Homo sapiens: one gene and its partners. The protein of the gene in region 2 purifies or fractionates together with the protein of the main gene of each other region. This does not show direct contact. Each region holds a gene or a part of one and is shown on either strand. Other genes may lie near its edges.

Region 1 (8,033 bases), on a different chromosome or scaffold from region 2:
TAAATTAAAAATAAGATAATGTTATGAACATTTTAAAGAGACAGTTGGGGCCAGGCGCAGTGGCTCATGCCTATAATCCCAGCACTTTGGGAGGCCGAGGCAGGCAGATCACCTGAGGCTGGGAGTTCGAGACCAGCCTGACCAACATGGAGAAACCCCGTCTCTACTAAAAATACAAAATTAGCCAGGTATGGTGGCACATGCCTGTAATCCCAGCTACTCAGGAGGCTGAGGCATGAGAATTGCTTGAATCCAGGAGGCCGAGGTTGCAGTGAGCCGAGATCACGCCATTGCACTCCAGCCTGTGCAACAAGAGTGAACCTCCGTCTCAAAAAAAAAAAAAAAAAAAAAAATGCCAGGCATGCTGACATACACCTGTAGTCCTAGCTACTCAGGAGGCTGAGGTGGGAGGATCACTTGAGCCCAGGAAGTCAAACAGCTGCAGTGAGCTATGATTACACCACTGCATTTCAGCCTGGGTGACAGAGCGAGACCCCGTCTCTAAAAAAAAATTAAAATAGGATCATGCTGTCTTATAATTTGCTTTCTTCATTCAAAAGTATCCTATGAGCATCTTTTCATGTCAATAAGTATACTTTGATCACATGATAGGTATCTGAGAAAAACAGTGTCCAGTTACCAAGGCAAAGTGCCACTTTGATTGTCAGGGCTCCTGTGTGGTTACAGTAAGGGCAGGTGAAGTCAGAGACCTAGATGACTCATCCATTGTGTGGCACGAGACCTTACAGAGCCAAGAGTGCTGCTGGCAGTTAGGGTAGAACCAGCTTCTGGAGCTGTTCTGTAATTCCTTCTTTTCCAGCAAGAAAACTTTTTAAGCTTCTTATATCTCTGATGCATACATTCTTCCCCCAATGGATCATTTTGTAAGCTAAAATTTAAACACTAGAATCAAGCAGTTCTATAATTTCTTTTCAAGCCTTATTTCTACTTGATGAAGTGGCTTTCAAGAGTATATTCAGAAGAGTAATAGGGTGAGAGACTTAATTCCCAAAATAGCTGCTAATCCTGTTTAATTCCTAGGTTGTTTGTCCTTTCTTTCTTAGTTGAAAGACTGGTGAGTCACAGACTACAGGAGAGAAGGTATTGGAGTTTGCAGTTTGTTGGGAAGGTGGTGCTGTTCAATTTATTTAGGAGTACAGTCCTTTCAAAGTACGGGACATTTAATTTAATTTAATTTTTCTTTTTTTTTTTGAGACAGAGTCTCACTCTGTCACCCGGACTGGAGTGCAGTGGCGCGATTTGGGCTCACTGCAACCTCCGCCTCCCAGGTTCAAGCCATTTTTCTGCCTCAGCCTCCTGAGTAGCTGGGACTACAGGCGCGTGCCACCACGCCCAGCTATTTTTTGTATTTTTAGTAGAGACGTGGTTTCACGGTGTTGGCCGGGCTGGCCACGAACTCCTGACCTCAGGTGATCCACCCGCCTCGGCCTCCCAAAGTGCTGGGATTACAGGCATGAGCCACTGCGCCCAGCCGGGACATTTAATTTTCAACAAGCGTGTTTCCTCTATTATGGAACAACAGTGACAATTTCCAGGTTGTTTTCAGTCTGTCTTACATGTATAAATTAATTCCATTTTTGGCCCTAGTGAAAGTGAACTCTCTTAGATATGTAAATGTGTGTCCTTTGATCATCTGAGTGATAAGTAGTGGTATTTGCATTTGAAGCCTGCATATTTTACAACCAGAGGATCTGTAAAACAGTGAATTTCTTGATAACTGAGAATTTTTTTTTTTTTTTTGGTTGGGGGATGGCGTCTCACTTTGTCACCCAGGCTGGAGTGTAGTGGCGCAGTCTTGGCTCACTGCAACCTCCACTTCCCAGGTTCAAGCGATTCTCCTGCCTCAGCCTCCAGAGTAGCTGGGACTATGGGTGTGCACCACTGCACCCAGTTAATTTTTGTATTTTTTTTAGAGACAGGGTTTCTCCATGTTGGTCTGGCTGGTCTCAAACTCCTGACCTTGTGATCCGCCGGCCTCGGCCTCCCAAAGTGCTGGGATTACAGGCGTGAGCCACCGTGCCTGGCCCTGATAAGTGAGAATTTATACACAGATAAACTTGTAGAGAAGAGCAGGGAAAAAAAAAAGATTAAATTCTTATGAAAAATAAAATTTGACTGCTCATATGCATGTAAATTATGTCAGATATAACTAAATATTTATGCAAATACTTGGAAAGTCTGGGGACTTCTCCAGGGTTCTACAAATTGTTTCAATCCTTGCTGCCACTATCCGTAATTAATGGTATAGTTTCAGCTATCCTGCAACTATCCTGCATCTTTGTCTTATTTAAAAGAAGAAAAAAAAACCCAGCAGAATTTACCATGTTATTTTATGGCAGGTAATGATGAACTTTGCTGATGTGTAGTTACAGTGTTTCAAGCACTTGTATTTTGCTTTTTCTTTCTTGTTTTTTTCCCCATTAATCTTTGGGTAAAAATCTCTTGTTTCGCATGTAACTATCATTAGAGCTGGGTTTGCCTTTCTTCTCATTTTGTCCTTATAAGGCCATCCTGTTTTATCACTTCCTGCTTCAGCTCCTGAGTTTTTCTCTCTTCCCCTCTCCCTCTCCCTCTGCCGGGTGGATGCTTTCTCCATGTGGCAAGGCTGTAACTGTTCACAGCTGTCTGAAACAGCAGTGGACCAGGAGCAGCTTGGAGTTTTAACTTTCATTTTACAAAGAACAACATGTTTGAATGTTTCAGCAGGCAAGTTATAACTGGCATCTACTTCTTGTTCTTCTAGAACACCGAAAATCTCTCCCAGCACTTTAGAAAGGGGACCCTGACTGTGTTAAAGAAGAAGTGGGAGAACCCAGGGCTGGGAGCAGAGTCTCACACAGACTCTCTACGGAACAGCAGCACTGAGATTAGGCACAGAGCAGACCATCCTCCTGCTGAAGTGACAAGCCACGCTGCTTCTGGAGCCAAAGCTGACCAAGAAGAACAAATCCACCCCAGATCTAGACTCAGGTCACCTCCTGAAGCCCTCGTTCAGGGTCGATATCCCCACATCAAGGACGGTGAGGATCTTAAAGACCACTCAACAGAAAGTAAAAAAATGGAAAATTGTCTAGGAGAATCCAGGCATGAAGTAGAAAAATCAGAAATCAGTGAAAACACAGATGCTTCGGGCAAAATAGAGAAATATAATGTTCCGCTGAACAGGCTTAAGATGATGTTTGAGAAAGGTGAACCAACTCAAACTAAGGTAAGAATTGGGCGGGTTTGAAACTTGAGAAAGCCAATTCAAGCACTAAACAAAGCTGTTTTTCCAATCTAGCTATTTTGAGTAGAGGCGAATATGTGGTCAGTATGTCTTTTGATTCCAGTTAGATAAGTTAATAGTCTCAAATGCATTATTTACATAGATGCTAAGATTTGTGAGTCTCTGACACAATTTCATGTTAAATCAGGTTCACACTGGGATTCAAATTGGTATCTAGAAATGAAGAGAGTTTAATACCGATTGGATTATGTGTTTTTGTACACTTGCCCTTTTAAATTGTCTTCCTGTGTTCTTTATCATTTGTAGCTTTGGGGGTGGAATTACTGCTGAATAGCTCTCTGCTTGGACACAGCTGCAGACTGAGTGTTAAGGCCGGAGTTTAACATTAAGACTGAGGCTTACTTGTCTCTGCTAGCTGAATCCCTTCTCTTCTTCTCAACTTCCTCATCTGTGCCTTCCAACAAATGTTTTCTATCAGCTAAAATCCTCTCTCAGGCAAAATCAATGAAGATAGCCAGACTAGCTATAGCTTTCGGGAGTTTTGACTTGCAAATGCACAGGGTTGCGTTTTCCTACAACTGCTAATGAAATTTGATCCTTCATGTGGATTGCAGACCTCGTCCCCAGAGGGAATTACTTAACTAGAAAATGAGTTACATATGCTGGTGATTTATAACACAATCCAGAGGCCACAGAGCTGGTAAATTTTTCCAGTTTTCTCATACTTTCCTATATATCTGGCTTTGTACATGGGGATGGTTCGTTACAACAGTCGTTATAATGAAATAAACAGACCTGATGGGGAGCAAAACCATCTGTTACTCTAGATTCCACCTAGATGGGAAAGCTGGATTTTTTTTAAGCTAAATATTTGGCCCAAGTCCCTATGTTTGGAAAGTAATATAATAATATTAAGCATTCTTTCTGAGATAAAAAATAACTCATCCTGTAGTCTTCAGTTATATTAGATGTGATATTGTCAATCCCTTCCCATGACTTGCAGTGCCAGTCACTTTTCTACTTAGAATTAGAAAAGTTCTTGAATGTTTGCGGGTCATGTTTGAAGTTGTGCGAGTTTTTGACGATGTGTAAAGCTACAACACTTCTCTGTGCATGAGCTTTAGCTCTACTTTAACAGTGAAACCAGTTGGCAAGAGATGTAACCACAAAGCAGTTTTATAACGTTTCTTAACTCTCTTCCCTCTCAAGTTTTTAGACCTTTAGTCCTGCCAACTCCTTCTTTCCCCTTTATGGTTTTAATTTAAAAATTTGTTTTATTTAAATGGGAAGAAGAATTTTAAGTGGAAGGAAAAAATGTCAGAAATCCTAAATAGAGAGGAAGGGGTTTTGTTGTGACTCAAAGCACCATTGTAAGTCTCCTCCTCCCAGACCCTGCTAGGAACAGGACAGCTGATGTCATGCCAGTACACACAATGTAGATTCAGTGCAAAAGGCTGCTGCATGTTGAAACTGGCCAAAGGTAGGAAATGACTGGGACTGTAGCAGACAAAAATGCTGATTATGTGTAAGGATATGGTGAGACACTTTTTCTCATAAATATCTAGTGAGATATGGGTCAGAACAAGCCTATCTCCCTAAGGCTGCTTGGAGAGGAGAAAAACTTTCCATATAAGATCTTACTAGTCCGGGCGTGGTGGCTCAAGCCTGTAATCCCAGCATTTTGGGAGGCAGAGGTTGGGGGATCACTTGTGGCCAGGAGTTCGAGACCAGCCTGGCCAACATGGTGAAACCCCGTCTCCACTAAAAATACAAAAATTAGCCAGGCATGGTGGCGTTGCTGGTAGTCACAGCTACTTGGGAGGCTGAGGCAGGAGAATCACTTGAACCTGGGAGGTGGAGGATGCAGTGAGCCGAGATCATGCCACTGCACTCCAGCCTGGGCAACAGAGTGAGACTCTGTCTCAAAAAATATATAAAAATAAAAATAAAGATCCTACTAGATGGCTGATAGCACTGGGCCACCAGATTGATTGCTAAAGGTATAGGAAGATGGAAGAGGCTGGGCACGGTGGCTTACATCTGTAATGAGAATTTAGGGAGGCCCAAGGCAGGAGGATTGCTTGTGCCCAGGAGTTTGAGACCAGCCTGGGCAACATAGCCAGACCTCGTCTCTACTAAAAATTTAAAAATTAGCCAGGTGTGGTAGTATGCATTGATAGTCCCAGCTACTTAGGAGGCTGAGGCAGAAGATTGCTTGAGCATGAGAGTTTGAGGTTGCAGTGAGCCATGATCGCCACTGCACTCCAGCCTGGGCAACACAGTAAGATCCCTGTCCCTTAAAAACAAGAAGATGGAAGAGACATAAGATTCACCTGGGCTTCTAGGTTTCATTGCTTTTTGTGTGTGCCATTTTTAATTTCCTGATTTGTCACTTAATGGACTGCTTAGGGAGTGGAAAACACAGCCACCCTTGGTTTTATTGCTGTTTGTAAATAAGCATCATTGTCCATACTGAAAACAGTCTAGATTATATTTATTTATTTATTTATTTATTTTTGAGACAGAATCTCTCACTGTTACTCAGGCTGGAGTGTATTGGTGCGATCTCGGCTCACTGCAACCTCCATCTCCCAGGTTCAAGTAATTCTCCTGCCTCAGCCTCCCAAATAGCTGGGATTATAGGCGCCCGCCACCACGCCCAGCTAATTTTTGTATGTTTAGTAGAGACGGAGTTTCATCATATTGGTCAGGCTGGTCTTGAACTCCTGACCTCAGGTGATCTGCCTGCCTCAAGCCTCCCAAAGAGCTGGGATTACAGGCATGAGCCACCACGCCCAGTCTCAGTCTAGATTATTTTTAACAGTTCTGTCAGGTATTCTATAGTCTGAGCTCAACCTACCTGTATAGTCTCACAGCCAATCTTATACTCAAACCTTGGAATACTCATCCCCCAACTGCTACTTTTTGAATCTTTTATTCTTAATATTTCACGTTTTAACTTCAGTGTGTTTATACTTTTTGAAATGAGACCAGAACATAGTAGACTTTATAGAGAAGACCAGTTTTACCTAGATTCCAAAGGAAGAATTAAACTGCTGTTATTGTTTGAAATGCGTTTTTTTTTTGTTTTTGTTTTTTTTTTTTTTATGGAGATAGGGTCTTAACTCTGTTGCCCAGGCTGGAGGAGTACAGTGGTACAGTTATGGCTCACTGCAGCCTTGACCCCTCTGCCTCAGCCTCCCAAATAGCTGGGGCCACAGGTGTGTACCACCACTCTCAGCTAATTTTTAAAATTTTTTATGGAGACAGCGTTTCGCTATGTTGCCCAGACTGTTCTTAAACTCCTGGGCTCAAGTGATCCTCCTGCCTTGGCCTCCCAAGCTGGTGAAATTACAGGCATGAGCCACCACACCCAGCCTGAAATTCTTAAAGGATGAGAATGTCAATGACAGAGCACCTTGGCATCATTGTGACTAACCTGGGAGACAGGGAAGAAGCACGCCATGGGAAGTGTTTACATTTGGGTACAGCTGTGCTAAGTACTGTGGAGCCCATAGCCTTGAGGTAGACGGCTACTTTGCCTTTTTTCTTGAACTGTCTTGCAGAATGTGGATTTGGGGTAAGTGGTCTTGAAGCACTCATTTAGTCACCCTCAAATTAAGATTTTTACTTCATCTTTCTTGGGCCTGTACCTCCAAGATGACAAAGAAAAGAAGAAACAATGGTCACACCAAAGAGGGCCGCAACCAGGTGTACGCTATTCACTGCAGCCAATTTGCTGCATAAACTGTGCCCATTGTGTGCCCAATGACAAGGCTTATTAAGAAATTCATCATAGGCCGGGCGCGGTGGCTCACGCCTGTAATCCCAGCACTTTGGGAGGCTGAGGCGGGCGGATCACGAAGTCAGGAGATTGAGACCATCCTGGCTAACACGGTGAAACCCTGTCTCTACTAAAAACACAAAAAAATTAGTTGGGCGTGGTGGCGGGCGCCTGTAGTCCCAGCTACTCGGGAGGCTGAGGCAGGAGAATGGCGTGAACCCGGGAGGCAGAGCTTGCAGTGAGCCGAGATCACGCCACTGCACTCCAGCCTGGGCAAGAGTGAGACTCCGTCTCAAAAAAAAAAAAAAAAAAAGAAAAGAAATTCATCACTTGAAATGCTTGAAATGTAGAGGCTGCGGCAGTCAGCGATATTTCTGAAGTGAGCGTCCTAGATGCCTGTGTACTTCCCAGGCTGGATGTGAAGCTACATTACTGTGTGAGTTGTGCCATTCACAGCACGGTAGTCAGGAATCAAGGTCATGAAGCCCACAAGGATCGAACACCTTCCCCCCACTGTAGACCTGCGGGTGCTGCCCCACGACCGCCAGAAATCAAGGTCATGAAGCCCGCAAGGACCGAACACCTCCACCCCACTGTAGACCTGCGGTGCTGCCCCATGACTGCCACCGAAGCCCATATAAGGAGCAGAGTTCTTAAGGACTGAAGAAAAACTAGCCTCTGGAGAAAAATAAAAAAATTGCAATTGTACTTAAAAAAAAAAAAAAGATTTTACTTCAAAGGCCAGGCTTGAAGTTCTGAACACTTTGAAGTCTCCAATTATGAGGGATCCAGTCTAAGCCTCTGGCTTTTGCTATTTAGCAATAGGTGTTCTATGATGGGCTGATTTGGAAGGAGGGAGTCAGCCACTCTTGAGCCACTGCAGTGAAGTCACTTGATCTCAGTCTGGAGAGAAACACTTTAATAGCTAAACATTCTAGCTTTGATTTTTCTGAAGGGAATACACCTGTTTTCAATTCTGGGATTTTTGGGGTGCTTGCTTGA
Region 2 (8,241 bases):
CAAAGGATCCTCCTGCCTCACCCTCCTGAGTAGCTAAGATTACAGGTGTGCCCCATTATGCCCAGCTAATTAAAACTTTTTTTTTTTTTTGTAGAGGCAGGGGCTTGCTATGTTGCCCAGGTTGGTTTCAAACTCCTGACCTCAAGCAATCCACACATCTCAGCCTCGTAATGTGCTTGGATTACAGGCATAAGCCAATATGCCCAGCCAACAGTCAACTGATTTTTGACAAAGGTGCCAAGAACACACAATCAGCAAACAACACTCTCTTCACTCAATGGTGTTGGGACAACTGGATATCCATATACAGAGGAATAAAACTAATACTTCATGCTACATTAAAAAATAAACTACAAATGAATTAAAGACTTAAATATAAGACCTAAAACTATAAAACTACTAGAAGAAACCATAGAAGAAAAGCTCCATGACATTCATCTGGGCAATAATTTTTTGGATACAAATCCAAAAACACAGGCAACAAAAACAAACATTGACAAATGGGATTACACCAAACTAAAAATCTCTTGCACGGCCAAGAACACAAACAACAAAGTGAAGAGACAACCTGTCTGCAAATCATACATCCGATAAGGGGTTAATAAAAAAAAAAAAAAAAAAAAAGAAACTCAACTCAGCAATGAGAAAACAAAGAACTCAATTTAAAAATTGGCAAAGGATCTGAGTAGACATTTCTCCAAAGAAGACATAAAAATATCCAACAGGTATATGAAAAAGTGCCCCAAATCAAAAATCACAGTGAGATATCACCTCACGCCTGTTAGAATGACTGTTATCAAAAACACAAAAGATAACACGTGTTGGTGAGGATGTGGAGAAAAGGAAACCCTTGCACATTGTTGGTGGGAATGTAAATTAGTACAGCCCTTGTGAAAAACAGTATGGAGATTCCTAAAAAAAATTAAAAATTAAAAAACTACTATAGGATCCATTAATCCAGTACTAAGTACGTATCCAAAATAAAGGAAATCAGTATGTCAAACAGATATCTGCACCCTGATGCTTATTACAATATTATTCACACTAGCCAAGATGAAATGAACCTAAGTGTTCATCAACAGATGAATGGATAAAGAAAATGCATATGTACACAATGGAGTGTTATTCAGCCTTGAAAAAGAAAGAAATCCTGTCACTAGCAACAACATGAATAAATGTGGAAGACATTATATTAAGTGAAATAAGCCAGGAACAGAAACACAAATATACCACTTAATTTCACTTATACACGGGATCTAAGAAAGTTGAACTCATAGAAGTAGAGAATATGGTGGTTACCAGAGACTTGGGAGAGGGGTTGGGGAAACAGACAAACAAACTACCTATTTCAAAATTTTTTTATAGCAGCCTGAGCAGACTAAGACAGACCCTTACCCAATACCATGTATAAAAATTAACTCAAGCCGGGCGCGGTGGCTCACGCCTGTAATCCCAGCACTTTGGGAGGCCGAGGCGGGCGGATCACGAGGTCAGGAGATCGAGACCACGGTGAAACCCCGTCTCTACTAAAAATACAAAAAATTAGCCGGGCGCAGTGGCGGGCGCCTGTAGTCCCAGCTACTCGGGAGGCTGAGGCAGGAGAATGGCCTGAACCCGGAAGGCGGAGCTTGCAGTGAGCGGAGATCGCGCCACAGCACTCCCGCCTGGGCGACAGAACGAGACTCCGTCTCAAAAAAAAAAAAAAAAAATTAACTCAAAACAGATCAAAGACCTAAATGTAAGATCCAAAACTATAAAACTCTAAGAAGTAAACATAGGTGAAAAGCTTCACAGCATTGGATTTGGCAATGATTTATTGGATAAGACATCAAAAGCACAGGCCACAGAAGAAAAGGTGAAGTGGATCAGGCCTATAATCCCAGTACTTTGGGAAACAGAAGTGGGAGGATTGCTTGAGGCCGGGGGTTCAAGATTACAGTGAGCTATGATTGCGCCACTGCACTTCAGTCTGGGTAACAGAGTGAGACCCTGTCTCTTAAAAAAAAGACAGACTGGATATCATAAAATTTTTTAAATTTGTGCATCAAAAGACACTATTAAGAGAGTAAAAAGGCAACCCACAGAATGGGAGAAAATATTTGCAAGTATTATATCTAATAAGAGATTAATATCCAGAATATTGTCATTCACCACTTAATGATGGGGATACATTCTGAGAAATACGTCATTTGGTGATTTTGCCATTGTGAGAACAACATAGAGTGTATTCTGTGTGATAAAATACACATAACATTAAATTTACCATCTTGATCATTTTTTTTTTTTTTTTTTTTTTTTTTTTTTTTGAGACGGAGTCTCGCTCTGTAGCCCAGGCTGGAGTGCAGTGGCGGGATCTCGGCTCACTGCAAGCTCCGCCTCCCGGGTTCACGCCATTCTCCTGCCTCAGCCTCCCAAGTAGCTGGGACTACAGGCGCCCGCCACTACGCCCGGCTAATTTTTTGTATTTTTAGTAGAGACGGGGTTTCACCGTTTTAGCCGGGATGGTCTCGATCTCCTGACCTCGTGATCCGCCCGCCTCGGCCTCCCAAAGTGCTGGGATTACAGGCGTGAGCCACCGCGCCCGGCCGATCATTTTTAAGTGTACAGTTCAGTGGTATTAAACACATTCATAATATTGTGCAACCATCACCACCATCTATCTCCATAATTTTTTATTTGTCCTTTTGTAACTGGCTTACTTAGCATAATGTCCTCAAGAATCATCCATGTCGTAGCCTTTGTCAGAATTCCAGAATTACATTACAGTACTTGCCTAGTAAGGGAGTTGCTGCTGCTGACCCCAGAACCAGCTACATCTGCTGAGGCTAGGCAACTTTTGCTGCCAAAACAAACCCCAGAACATACTGCCTTTGCTGCTACCCATGCCAGCAAAAATGGACACCAGCGACACAAGTCACCCAACAGAGCCCTTTGTTGGTGTATATAATTAGTGGAACCTTAGTAGTGTATAAAATTAGTCACATACCCCATTCCAGTAGCAGGGGAGGCTGGGATTTCTTTTCCCCCTCAAATTCTACCTTGGAAAGGTAGGATTCATGATGTGGGGGATTATAAAAATGTGGATGGTGTTCAAAATATTTTGGACAGTCGTAAATGACAGATAGATATTCATTATATAGTGCCTGTCTCTTTGCATTCACTTTCTACATCCCTCCAAAGTCACCAAAATTCTGGCTAATTTGTGTCATAAATAGCTCAGGCATCTATTCACTTTCCCTATCCTCCCGGGCATTTCTTTAGTGTAAGTCACTCCATGGGGATGGGAAATAAAAGGTAGATAAGGGAAGGAGAAGAGAGATGCCTTGAAATTTGTGGGTTCTCTATAAATACTGTCAAATTAAAATTTAATTGTACGTAGTGCCAAAGGCAGAAAGAAATCTTAATTTTCTCCAAGGTAACAATATACTGTTCTTTTTAACTGAAACAAAACTCCCTGGATCTCTCTCTCTCTCTCTCTCTTTTTTTTTTTTTTTCTTCAGACAAGGAAGGCTCTGTTGCCCAGGCTGGAGTGCAGTGGCACCATCACAGCTTGACCTCCCTGGCTCAAGGTATCCTCCCACCTCAGTCTCCCAAGTAGCTGAGACTACATATACACACCACTACACCTGGCTAGTTTTATTTTATTTTATTTATTTTTATTTTTATGGAGACAGGGCCACCATGCCTGGCTACTTTAATTTTTTTTTTTTTTTTTTTTTTTTGGTAGATACAGGGTCTCACTCTGTTGCTCAGGCTGGTCTCCAGCTCCTGGGCTCAAGTGATCCTACCATCTTGGCCTCTCAAAGTGCTGGGATTACAGGTGTGAGATCTTGATTTTTACTTATGAACACATGCAAGCACTCTGTATGTGTTGGGTGGTGTACACTCTCGGGACAGGGAAGTTAGAGTTTCAATTGTGGCCATGGCTTCTTTACTCTTTCTGTGATCTTGAGCAGTCCCACAACTCTTAGAACTTAATTCATTATAGAAGTGTTGGAGAATTTCTGTGAGATAATCAGGCATAAATTTTTAAAGCATTAATATTGCTGAGATGTCCAAATGACTACATAAATTATGATCCACCTACACGCTAAACTGCTATGTAGCCATTAAAAAGAATGACGCTGCTCTAAATATACTAATATGAAACAGTTTCCAAGATATCCTGAGTGAAGAAAAGACAGTATAGAACAATGTATATAGTATGCTACCATTTTTGTATGTGTGCATGCCTTCACATATGTGTGCTTTTAAGGGATATAGGCATATTTAAGCTCGTAAATTCATAGACCATCTTTGTAAAGGTACACAAAGAACTGGCAATAGTGGTTGCCTTCAGAGAAGAGAACTTGAAGAGAACCTCCCTACTGGAGGCAGGGATGGTGGAAGGGGTGGGGGATGGAGAGAGTGGAGATTGAGCTTTTGAATTCTGTTCCATGTGCATATATTATAAATTCAAAAAAAGATATAGTTTATTTTTTAAGAACCTGGAATTAAGTCCTATCTATGAAAGCTGAAGAGATCAAAGTGAGAGGTAATTTAATTTGAAGCCCAGGTACAGCAGAAGTTTGGGGCTTCTGTGTTACTCATGCTTATCCACACCTTTATTTTTTCTTTTTCTAAAGCATCTGGGTCTTTAGTTCAAATATTTGCAGATCCATGGTTTACTGGGTAGAATTTTTGTTGTGGCATACATCAACATATTCCAAGTTTCTCTGCTTGGATGGAATAGATGCATGAAATTCTGTGAAATGATTAAGCTGTGAAAAGTAGAAGGACTTTGAATAGGCATTATTTTTCAAGATCTTAGAAATAGTTATGCCTGATAGTTTTATAATGTCTGTAGCGTATTTTGCAGTCCACAGAACGCACTCACATACATTATCAGCTGATCCGTCGCAAAGAAGCCTCATGTGATTCTTTCTATTCTCAGCTTTGTCCATGAACTAAAATTAGAACTAGGCTGACATTACATTTCACTTGGTTACAGCTGACTGGGGATTTTAATCATTTGGAGCCACACTGAAAAAAAAATTTCCCCCTGCAATCTACTCTTAACTGATAGTCGCTAACTTTGGTTATGTGTGGTAAGTATTTGACAATGGTAAGTATTTTTCAAAAACATTTTTCCTTTCTTCTTCACATGTAAATAGATTGCTGCTGATACCTATACTGTGTCTGTATTGGTTGGAATGTCCAAACAAACTGGAATAGAATTTAAAAGTTTTTTTGCGGGGTGTTCATGGTCACTCATATAATTGTGCTCCTCTGGAAGATAGATTTCCCCAGAAGTAAGAAACAATTCTTCTGCAATTCTTTTCTATGCTTACCTCACTTGTCACATTATGTGCTTTTTTTCTATTATGGTACTAATCAGAGTAGAGAGCAGTCCTGTGCTGGAGGAAGAAATATATCATTATTGACTTGTGTTTCCCTAGGGGAAGTTGGTTGTTATAGGAAAACTGATGGATGAGCAACATTTAATGGCAAATGAGGAAATGAATTAGCAAATGGATGAATTGTTTTACATGTCTTCTAAAATACATGTATACATGTAGATACTTGGGAATTCAAAAATATTTTTATTCGAGTATTTAGCAAAAACTTCAAACTTTCTTAAATTAGAGACAATAAATTGTAAATTGGTTGCAATATGCTCAGGAAGTTGGATTACCAGTGTATGTATCCCAAGGTTTCTTCACAGCAAAGAGATCTCGCATTCTGTTCCTGAGTAAATTCGGCATGCCTTGCTTAGAGATTCTCTCAACAATTTCCTGCCTATGCCAATTATTTATCAATCTTGAAATTTTAAACTTTTTTCTGTAATATAGTTCTCCTCTTTCTTTGACTGTCTCACACACATATATACTGCATAATATTAGTTTAAAAAATCAATAATTTAGAAGAGGTTAATAATGAAAAGCAATATTATCTATCCGATTCCTCTCTATCACCAGTCCTGCTCCCTAGAAGTAATCATTTTAACCATTTTGGAATTTAGTTTTCAGTGGTTATCTCCATATTTCTCTCTTTTTTTTCTTTTTCAAAGACAATTGCATGCTATTTTTAATCAACTTTAAACATCTGTGGAGCTTCATTATGAGAGGTGGGGATTAAGTTCCCTTACACTGCCATAGAGTTATATCCCTATTTTTAGCTTCTCTCTTGATTACCTTAATAACTTTAAGCAAATACTTTAATCTTTATTTCTTGTTCCATAAGGTACAGACAGTATCTGTTGATTCCCCACTTCGAAGATGTGGATATCGGTGTTCTTATCATTTACTTCTTTTCCTTATTTCCTTCTTCCATATTCTGTTAAAAGTACTGTCACTTTTATGTTTTCAAGATATATGGCATTTATATTCTGTTCTGTAACCCTCAATAAGTCTTCCTTACTTTTTTATAGATTGATTTATTTCAAAAGTTTAAGACCAATACATAGACTTTACTATGTAATTTCTGTTTTCTGCAGAGCCAACATTTCCTTCTCAGTATCAATGTCATATTCATTGTACTAAAGAAGAATGTTAAAATAGATTCTCCTTTCCTGCACTTCAATAAATGCTAAAAAATCATGCCACATTTTGTTGGCTCTATATATGGACTGTGGCTTTCTTGTACAGTGTCTTCCTCAACACAATTTCTGACTGCCTTTCTTTTTGCTTATTGGGAGAAGAAATTTCATCTTTTCACCATATCTCCAATGTCACACAGTTTTTTCCCCCTTAATTCTAGCTATTTTTATAATTCAATGGATGAATACTGCCATTCCTTTTTTTTGTTTGTTTTTGAGACAGAGTTTCATTCTTGTTGTCTGGTCTGTAGTGCAATGGTGCAATCTCAGCTCACTGCAACCTCTGCCTCCCGGGTTCAAGTGATTCTCCTGCCTCAGCCTCCCAAGTAGCTGGGATTACAGGCATGTGCCACCACGCCTGGCTAATTTTATGTTTTTTTAGTAGAGACGGGGTTTCACCATGTTGGTCAGGCTGGTCTTGAACTCCTGACCTCAAGCGATCCACCAGCCTCCCAAACTGCTGGGATTACAGGCGTGAGCCACCATGTCCAGCTATTGCTTTTAAAACATTGTTTTACTTTATTTTTAATTTTTTTACTATCATGTAAAACATTGCTGGGAACAGTCTTGTTCATGTTTCCTGGTGGAGACACACCCTTCCTCTAGGTACATACCTTTGAATGGAATTGCTGGATCATAAGCTGTGCTTATCTTCAATATTAGTACATAAGTATTTCAAAATAGTTAATACTAATTTACAATTTCACCAATATACCAGGAGTCCATGAGGATTTCTGTAACTCAAATTCTCACCAACACTTGGTATAATCAGCCTTTTGAATTTTAGCCATTCTGACAGATGTTCATTGGTATCTTATTATGTTTTTATTAAGGTGGAGCACAACTTCATTTGTTTTTGGTCATTTGGATTTTTTTTTCTCCACAGGGAAAGTTCTACCATTTGGATTTTATTTTTTGAAAATTTCCTGTTCAATTGTATTTTCTGTTGCCTTTTTCAGCTGATTTTAAGGAGTTCGTTATATATTCTAGATGTAATCCATTGGTGGTTATATATATTGCCAATATCTTCCCCCACTAATGTACATGGTATTCCTTTTATTTTCTAAGTGATGTCTTTCAATAGGTTCTTAATTGTAATGTAGTCCACTTTATCAATCTGTGTTAGGCTGTTCTTGCATTGCTATAAAGAAATAACTGGCCAGGCACAGCAGCTCATGTTTGTGATCCTAGCACTTCTGGAGGCCAATGCAGGAGGATCACTTGAGCCCAGGAGTTCAAGACCAGCCTGGAGAATGTGGAGACATCCTGTCACTACCAAAAAAAAAAAAAAAAAACTGGCACACTGGTTCTTGCTGTAGTCCCAGCTATTCTGAAGGCTGAGGCAGAGGGGGCCCAGGAGATCAAGGCTACTATAAGCCATGATTGTGCCACTACACTCCAGCCTTGGTGGCAGAGTAAGCCTGTCTCAAAAAAACAAAAAACAAACAAACAAAAAACCACAAAACAAAGAAATACCTGAAACTGGGTAAATTACAAAGAAAAGAGGTTTAACTGGCTCACGGTTCTGCAGGCTTTACAGGAAGCATGGTGCTGGCATCTGCTTCTCAGGGAGCTTTCAATCATGGTGGAAGGCAAAGGGGGAAGCCTGCGTCCCGCAAGGCCAGAACAGGAGCAAAAGAGGGAGCAGGGGGAGGTGCCACAAA
Region 3 (8,041 bases), on a different chromosome or scaffold from region 2:
TGGGGACAGAGGACGGGAGGATGGTGGCATGAGAGAGGGCAGGCCGAAGGACTCCCCCCCCAGGCCCTGGTACTAGCAGGGGCTTCCCAGGCAGGCCTTGCCTAAGGGCTTGCCAGGTGTCTGACACCGAATGAGAGGCTTCCCTCTCTTCCTGGCTTCCCCAGCCTTTTCAGCTTGAGCCCCTCTGTGCTGTGAAAACCTTTCTTAGGCTCTCTTCCAACAGGTTTCTCCTCCACTCCCGCCTCCTTTCTGTCCTCCCGACGGAGGCCCAAGGGTCCAATGGGGTCTTGCTTAGTCCCAGGTGGCCTCCCCCTCAGCCTCCCTTCTTCCCTCATCATCCACACCTGGTGTTCTCCCTCTGGAAGAAAGGGAAGAAAATGAACGAGAAGACTGTGGCTGCAGGTGGATGGAGAGACACACTGGAGCTAAGGAAATTTACAAGTGTCTTCTAAAAATCCTGGCTGTGGGTCTGGGTACAGTGGCTCACACTTGTAATCCCAACACTTTGGGAGGCCGAACTAGGAGGATCACTTGAGACCAGGAGTTCGAGACCAGACTGGGCAACATAGGGAGAACCCGTCTCTACAAAAAAACAAAAAAAATTAGCTGGGCATGGTGGCGTGCGCTGGGACTGTGGTCCCAGCTACTCAGGAGGCTGAGGTGGGAGGATTACTTGGCCTAGGGAGGTTGAGGCTACATTGAGCCATGATTATGCCACTGCATTCCAGCCTGGATGACAGAGCAAGACCCCGTCTTAAAAAAAAAGAAAAAGAAAAAAAATGATCCTGGCCACATCATTTTCATCATTATCATGGTGACTGGGCATGTTTATTGAGCTCTTACTATGGGCCAGGCACTTGTGAAGTACTTATGGCTCATCATTTCACTCAACACTCGAGAATGTCCCAGAGTCCCAGGTCACACAGGCAATCAGCAGCCAAGCCAGCCCCCAGGGTCCTTCAAAGCTGTGCTCTGAACCTCCATGGTGGGGTATCCTGCCTTCCATGGTCCTGCTCCCAAGAAAAACAATTTGTCCTATGGCCAGAGGAAGCTTGAAGCCCACTTACATAGTTAATACAAACCCCTTCACCTTTGCTGCTCTGGCATTCGACTTCCTTGGCCTGGACCCACTGATGTGATGCTCTCACTCCCTCCTCTGGCTCAATTAAACATTTGTCTCAGGCAGAAATCATGACATCCTCCTATCCAAGTCCTCATGCCCCCACTTGCTGGGATGACCTGAGTTGGGATTTGAGCACCACCCTAGCTAACTCCACGCTAACTCTGTCCTTCTGTAGAGGGTTGACTGCTCCTTCCTTCCTGAGACAATTTAACTGCATGGATGAGTCCTGCAGATGTTCAGGGCTATCATAGTAGACTCATGGGCAGCCGGTGAACAGGCCACTGCATGTACTGACGACGGGCATAGCTCACCCTGAAAAGATGTCTCATGGTCCCCAACCAGGTTCTCCAACCCCGGGGCCCACGGTGCACCCAGAGGGATTCTACCCATTGTGGGGCCAGGGCAGGCCTCAGGCTCTGAGCCCCACTAGCGGAAGGGCAGCTTCTCTGCCAGCAGCTTCTCTGCCAGCAGCTCCTCTGCCAGCAGCACCCCATCTTGGAGACCCAGAGGGTGAAGAGGGCTAAGAAGCTAGCCTGGGAGGATTAGATCCCAGGTTACTAATTCAGGATCCTTGTTCATCATCGGATCTCCAGCATCAGCATGATGCCAGGTACAAGTGAAGGGGCACTAAGCCTTTAAGACTGTTTCCCTGCACAGAACCAGAAGGGAGTGGGCTCAATTATGGGAGGTGTAGCCATGTTGCCATAGGGCTTACACCTGGAAAGAAGCAGTGAGCTCCAAGGATCTCATGACTAGGGTGCTGTTACATGCTCAGGGGTCCAGGATCAGGACTCCTCTGGGCAATTTCTACTTGCAAATAGAAGCAACTAGGTAAGTAAGGACTTGCCACCTTGAGGCAGAGAAAACAGGTTTGATCATGCCTTTATCTGCCCCCAAAGGAGAGAGGCTCCTCGCTTGCACGTTTGCTTTCTGCCATTCTCACCGCCTGGCTAACAGAGAGCCACACATGCATCCAAGCTTCCTGACTCAGCATGTTAATAGACTGCTATCTCCATGCTGTCCCTACGGTGGGAGAGGTATTTCGACATGGCAGATGCAGAAAAGGCAGACTCCCTAACCAGGGTTGCAAGCTGGCAGCAAATGAACCTGGACTTCGGCCTGGGCCCCGTGTGCCTTCTCCAACAAGTGATACTGTGTTTATCTTTTTATTTTTATTTATTTATTTATTTATTTATTTATTTATTTATTTATTTTTTGAGATGGAGTCTCGCTCTGTCACCCAGGCTGGAGTGAGTGGCGTGATCTCGGCTCACTGCAACCTCCGCCTCCCGGGTTCAAGTGATTCTCCTGCCTCAGCCTCCCGGGTAGCTGGGACTACAGGCGTGCATCACCTCACCTGGCTAACTGTGTATTTTTAGTAGAGACGGGGTTTCATCATCTTGGCCAGGCTGGTCTTGAACTCCTGACCTCAGGTGATCTGCCCGCCTTGGCCTCCCAAGGTCCTGGGACTACAGGTGTGCACCATCATGCCAAGCTAACTTTTTATTTTTTAAATTTTTAGTGGAAATGAGTTTTTGCTATGTTGCCCAAGCTGGTAATCCCACATTTAACCTAAATATCTAAAAAACTTATTTTTCCTTTTCTTTATTGGCTTCTGTCATTAGACTCAGTGCATATGAACAGAGCTTCTGAGTGTAGACAGCCTGAAAAGGGTAAAATAAAAGGAGCCAATTCGTACTTAAGCAGAAAAAAGACATAATAGAGAAAAAAATAAAATCATAAGAAAAAGGGAAAAAATAGCCAATTGATTGATAATAGAATGGGAAAGTTTCTAAGTATGGGAGGTGGGGGTAGGGGTGGAGCAGGGCGCTGGTGTTACAGCTCACTAGGAGATGAGGAGAGCTGGGTTTGCTTTGAGGCAATTCAGGTAGCTCTTCCTGGTTGGTGGAGACAGGGAAGGAACAGGCAGTCAAGGTTCTGCTTTTGTTCTGTCTCAGCCAGTGCCCATTCCAAGGCTCCTATTCCTCGAAAAAACTGACCTGCTGGGCACTCACTGCAAAGTATCCGCTATGAGTGGGGCCCCTACTAGCAACATACTTCTCCAGGCTGGCCTAGTTTACAGAACCCTCAATCCCAGCTAACAGGGCTTTCTTGAGTCAGGGCCTCTCTGCTACCACACCTCCTCCCACAACATTGTGTGATCCTTTCTGTTTAGGCTCCTTCCGTTTGGTACTGATTGCTGCTTTTATTAGCAAACATTACACCAAAATGAAAATAAATACAAGTGTCAGTGCGGGAAGGGAGTAAAGTGGGTTCTGTGTCTTCAGTACTGGCAAAAGATTTGCTGTGAGACCTGGTGGTCAACCCAGTACCTGATCTTCTCTGTGCACCTGTGCAATTATTGTAAGGATGTTTATCTGTCTGTCTTCTTCCCCCTCACAGGGCGGGCAGCTGTGGTCTTCCTTATACACCCTACTGACACAGGGCTAGGGCCATTCAGGAAGCAGTCATTTCAGGGATAGGCCCACTGCCGCGCCTGCCTGCTCATGTCCACAAGCAGCTGCCCAGCTGATCAATCACCACAATTTGGGGTTAGGAGTTTGGTCCTGGAAGGCAGGTAGCAACAACTACTACCTAGCCAAAGAATATTCTAAAGAGCTGTCCTGTCATGTTCAATGTCTAGGTCCACAATCCCGCAAGCTTAGCGAAGTAATGCTCTGTCATTCTTACCCCCATTTACAGATGGAGAAATGGGCTGGGAGATGACAGTATGGAGGCACCAGGATTTTTGTCTCGGCTCAATTTCTGCATCTCTAAATGGAAATAATTCTACTAACTCTGAGGGTTGTTGGGGGGATTTAATGAATATATGTGTTTACTTGTTTATCTCCTGTTTTCTGTTCTAGACTGTAAACCCCAATGGGCAGCGACTTTGGCTTGTTCACTGCTCTATTGTCAGAGCCTAGAACAAGTGCCTGGTACAAAGTAGGTGTTCAATAAATATCTATGCCTAAATGGAAGAGACAGGAGAGAAGTCTAGGCCAGAGCCTGCCCCTTCTATAACCTTAGTTCCCCAGATTTGCCTTCCACATCAGGCAGCCACTGGTTGATGGAAGCATCGTCGGGCTGGGGCTGGGGCTGGGGTAACCTACTTCTGGCCTTAGGACAAGGTCGGCAAAAATCTCAGCAGTGAGGAGGCCAGAAAAGTCTCCAAGGGGCAGGCTGCAATGCCAGCCTAAGCCCTCAGGTTTCCTTTTTCTTTTTCTACATCAGGAAAAGCACTTTTCTCGCCCTGCCTGCAGAGCGGGCCACCCCTAGCTGCAGGTGAGGGACGGGAGAGGAGCCTCCCACGTGCGGCCGTGCGAGGCCGAGGAACAGGAACGGCGTAGCTAGGAGACCAGGTCCCGGAGAAGGAGAGCTGGCCCCACTGGCAGAGAAAGGCGGGGAAGGGCGCGGAGGCGGAGCACTGGGCGGGTACCCGCTGGCGGCTCTCGCGCGGCGGCGCTGCTCCACCTTAAGCGACTGTACCCCCTTAAGGGCGGGCGCTCAAGCAGCGAGCCCCGGGGGCGGGGCCTCCAATGCAAATGAGGGGCGTGGGCAGGCGGGGCGGGGCGGGCGGGGCGCTGACCTGACGTCAGGCTCGCGGCCCGGGCAGTTGGCTCGGCGGCAGCGGAGCGGCCGGAGCTGCGGTGCGGACCGGGGCCGCGCGGCGTGGCGCGGGGAGCGGCGGCGGCGGCAGAGCCAGAGCAACATGGCGCCGGTGGGCGGGGGCGGGCGCCCGGTCGGCGGACCGGCCCGCGGGCGCCTCCTCCTGGCGGCGCCGGTGCTGCTGGTGCTGCTGTGGGCGCTGGGGGCCCGGGGCCAGGGCAGCCCCCAGCAGGGCACGATCGTGGGCATGAGGCTGGCGAGCTGCAACAAGTCGTGTGGGACGAACCCGGATGGCATCATCTTCGTGTCCGAGGGCAGCACCGTGAACCTGAGGCTGTACGGCTACAGCCTGGGCAACATCTCCAGCAACCTGATCTCCTTCACCGAGGTGGACGATGCCGAGACCCTCCACAAGTCCACCAGCTGCCTCGAGCTCACCAAGGACCTGGTCGTCCAGCAGCTGGTCAACGTGAGCCGCGGGAACACGTCCGGCGTGCTGGTGGTGCTCACCAAGTTCCTCCGGAGGAGCGAGAGCATGAAGCTGTATGCACTGTGCACCCGGGCCCAGCCCGACGGGCCCTGGCTGAAGTGGACGGACAAGGACTCACTGCTCTTCATGGTGGAGGAGCCTGGGAGGTTCCTGCCTCTCTGGCTGCACATTCTCCTAATTACGGTGCTGCTGGTGCTGTCGGGCATATTTTCTGGCCTCAACCTCGGGCTTATGGCCCTGGACCCCATGGAGCTGCGCATCGTGCAGAACTGTGGCACCGAGAAGGAGAGGCGCTATGCCCGCAAGATTGAGCCCATCCGGCGCAAGGGCAACTACCTTCTCTGCTCGTTGCTCCTAGGGAACGTGCTGGTCAACACCTCCCTCACAATCCTTCTAGACAACCTCATCGGGTCCGGCCTCATGGCGGTGGCCTCCTCCACCATTGGCATTGTCATCTTTGGGGAGATCCTACCTCAGGCCCTGTGCTCCCGACATGGGCTGGCTGTGGGTGCCAACACCATCCTTCTCACCAAATTCTTTATGCTACTCACCTTCCCCCTCAGTTTTCCCATTAGCAAGCTCCTGGACTTTTTTCTGGGCCAGGAGATTCGCACTGTTTACAACCGGGAGAAGCTGATGGAGATGTTGAAGGTGACGGAGCCCTATAATGACCTCGTGAAAGAGGAGCTCAATATGATCCAGGGTGCCCTGGAACTACGGACCAAAACTGTAGAGGATATCATGACCCAGCTCCAGGACTGCTTCATGATCCGCAGCGATGCCATCCTGGACTTCAACACCATGTCGGAGATAATGGAAAGCGGCTATACTCGCATCCCGGTGTTCGAAGACGAGCAGTCCAATATTGTAGATATTCTCTACGTCAAAGACTTGGCCTTTGTGGACCCCGATGACTGCACCCCCCTCAAGACTATCACTCGCTTCTATAACCACCCGGTGCACTTTGTCTTCCATGACACCAAGTTGGATGCCATGCTGGAGGAGTTCAAGAAGGGTAAGGCCAGATGTAGTTCCCCTGGTTCAATTTCCTCTTGACGCCTCTTTTCCCCTGGCGTGTTTTGTGTCTGCTGGCTTTAGTGTTCTGTTTGTGTGACTCTGTGTCCCTTTGCCTATCGCTTCCTATGCTTCTGAGGTGAACGATTTTGGAGCGGTAGACCCATTCTCAAGTGTCTGCCGTCTGCCAGGTAGTGTGCTGTGTGCTCCTGATGAATCAAAGCTGAATAAGACATACTCGCTCCCTTGGAGGGCTGGAGCAAGACCTCAGGGAGCTATTGAAGCAAGACAGAGTAAGACAGATGCCTGAAAAGAGGCCAGGGCGATGGAGATTTAGAGTATGGGGTGGAGTCAGGAAGGGGCTGGGAAATTGGGGAATCCACAGGGGAAGGAGCATTTGAGGAGAATCTTAAAAGGTAGAGAGGCTTGCTGCTTGAGGCAGAGGGAACCCCGCAAGCAGAGAACCGGAGTGGAGAAGCAAAAGTGTGCTTGTGGCCCAGCAGGTGGTCCTGTTTGGTGGGTATAGTGGCTCTGATGCTTAGTGGTCAATGGCTGGAGTAGTTTGGGGCCCGGTGGTGGACGCTAAGTTTGCTCCCAGCTTGGGAGCTACAGGTTTTTGAGCAGGGGAGTCATGTTACTGGAGGTGCTAGCCCACAGAAGCAGAATTGGGAGGTCTCTAATTGGCTCGCTTCTCAGAACAATGCCAAGTAGCGCTTTCGACTATTCAGCAGAAGCAAGCAGATTAAGTTTTGGTAATTGTGGCGCCAGCGTAAGCTTCCCTCCAGTGGTCTGCTGGAAATCTTCAGCTGCCTTGCACTGCCTTGTGTTTTTTTCTCACCTGGGTTCTTGGCCATTTCGCAGGTAGTTAGAGAGGCATTTGGAGGGTTTACTCATCAGCCTCAAAGCTCAAGGCACACACTCCTTTTCTTCCAGCAAAATTTTCCTCCCATCTCTGCCATTCAGAAACCCTCAAAGTGGCAGTAAACAAGCCAATTATGGAGTGGAACCCTCCCAGGCTGAAGGAAGTGAGGAGGCAGAAAGGGAAGCTCTTTTTTAAAGGAATGGGGGTGAGGGGCTCATCCTAAACTTGGGGACTTTGCTTTCTAAACATGCTCCCAGCCTTCATTCCCATAGGAGAGCTCCTACTGGCTGAGGCTGCTCAGGCCGACCTAGGGCTTGGAGGGACTTCGGAATCCTAGCAGGGAGTGAGCTGGCAGGTGTTTCTGTAACGGAGAGTGGAGGACAGCTTTGGAGTGGGATAGGGAGGAGCTGGCTTTGCCAGGTTTGGTCTGAAAAGATGCTGGGGTCAGGGCCAGGGTGGTGGGTTGGTACCCTCCTAAGTTCAACAGACTGAATCTTAGTATCGGAGCTGAGGACCACTTGAGTAAAGTAAGCCAGAGTCTGGGAGAGCCCCAGGGAAGGTGGCCTCCCTGCAGAGACTGGAGAGACAGACCCCTAGTGGTGAAGGCAGAGGCTGCGGTGGGGTGGGGGTGGGGGCGGCTTTGGGAGTGCAGACCCAGGAATCAGGTTTTCCCAGGTACCCGAGCCTGGGACAGAAAAGCAGTGAGGATCTGTGCCCCACCCCCACCCTAAGCCTTGGGACCTGAAGACTTCTCCTATTGCTTAGTTGGGAACCTGATTAGGACCCTCCAGGGCAACTTCCTCCTCACTGCCTCTGTGGTGTTTGGGACTATGGTTTGTGACACACCCAGTAGCACCTTCCCATCAGTTCATTTGGAATCTGGATCCAACCAGTATGGATTGGTCTGACCAGTCTCCCAGTCTTGATCAGCAGGGCTGAGCTC

The links. Proteins that work in one complex are often made in the same cells at the same time.
Region 1: the proteins of LRRC39 (region 2) and LIMA1 purify together in Homo sapiens (affinity purification with mass spectrometry; 3 studies listed by BioGRID and IntAct, with this or other methods). This does not show direct contact.
Region 3: the proteins of LRRC39 (region 2) and CNNM4 purify together in Homo sapiens (affinity purification with mass spectrometry; 3 studies listed by BioGRID and IntAct, with this or other methods). This does not show direct contact.

Annotation. Positions count from the first base shown.
Region 1 is NC_000012.12:50,217,217-50,225,249, reverse strand, and holds part of LIMA1 (LIM domain and actin-binding protein 1), read left to right. Parts: intron 1-2,591; exon of another isoform or gene 2,592-2,615; coding exon of another isoform or gene 2,616-2,727; exon of another isoform or gene 2,728-2,764; coding exon 2,765-3,229; intron 3,230-8,033. UniProt on the Homo sapiens protein: Actin-binding protein involved in actin cytoskeleton regulation and dynamics. Increases the number and size of actin stress fibers and inhibits membrane ruffling. Inhibits actin filament depolymerization.
Region 2 is NC_000001.11:100,174,981-100,183,221, reverse strand, and holds the start of LRRC39 (leucine-rich repeat-containing protein 39), read left to right. Parts: upstream 1-4,965; 5' UTR 4,966-5,087; exon of another isoform or gene 5,088-5,104; intron 5,105-8,241. UniProt on the Homo sapiens protein: Component of the sarcomeric M-band which plays a role in myocyte response to biomechanical stress. May regulate expression of other M-band proteins via an SRF-dependent pathway. Important for normal contractile function in heart.
Region 3 is NC_000002.12:96,756,165-96,764,205, forward strand, and holds the start of CNNM4 (metal transporter CNNM4 precursor), read left to right. Parts: upstream 1-4,737; 5' UTR 4,738-4,835; coding exon 4,836-6,237; intron 6,238-8,041. UniProt on the Homo sapiens protein: Probable metal transporter. The interaction with the metal ion chaperone COX11 suggests that it may play a role in sensory neuron functions. May play a role in biomineralization and retinal function.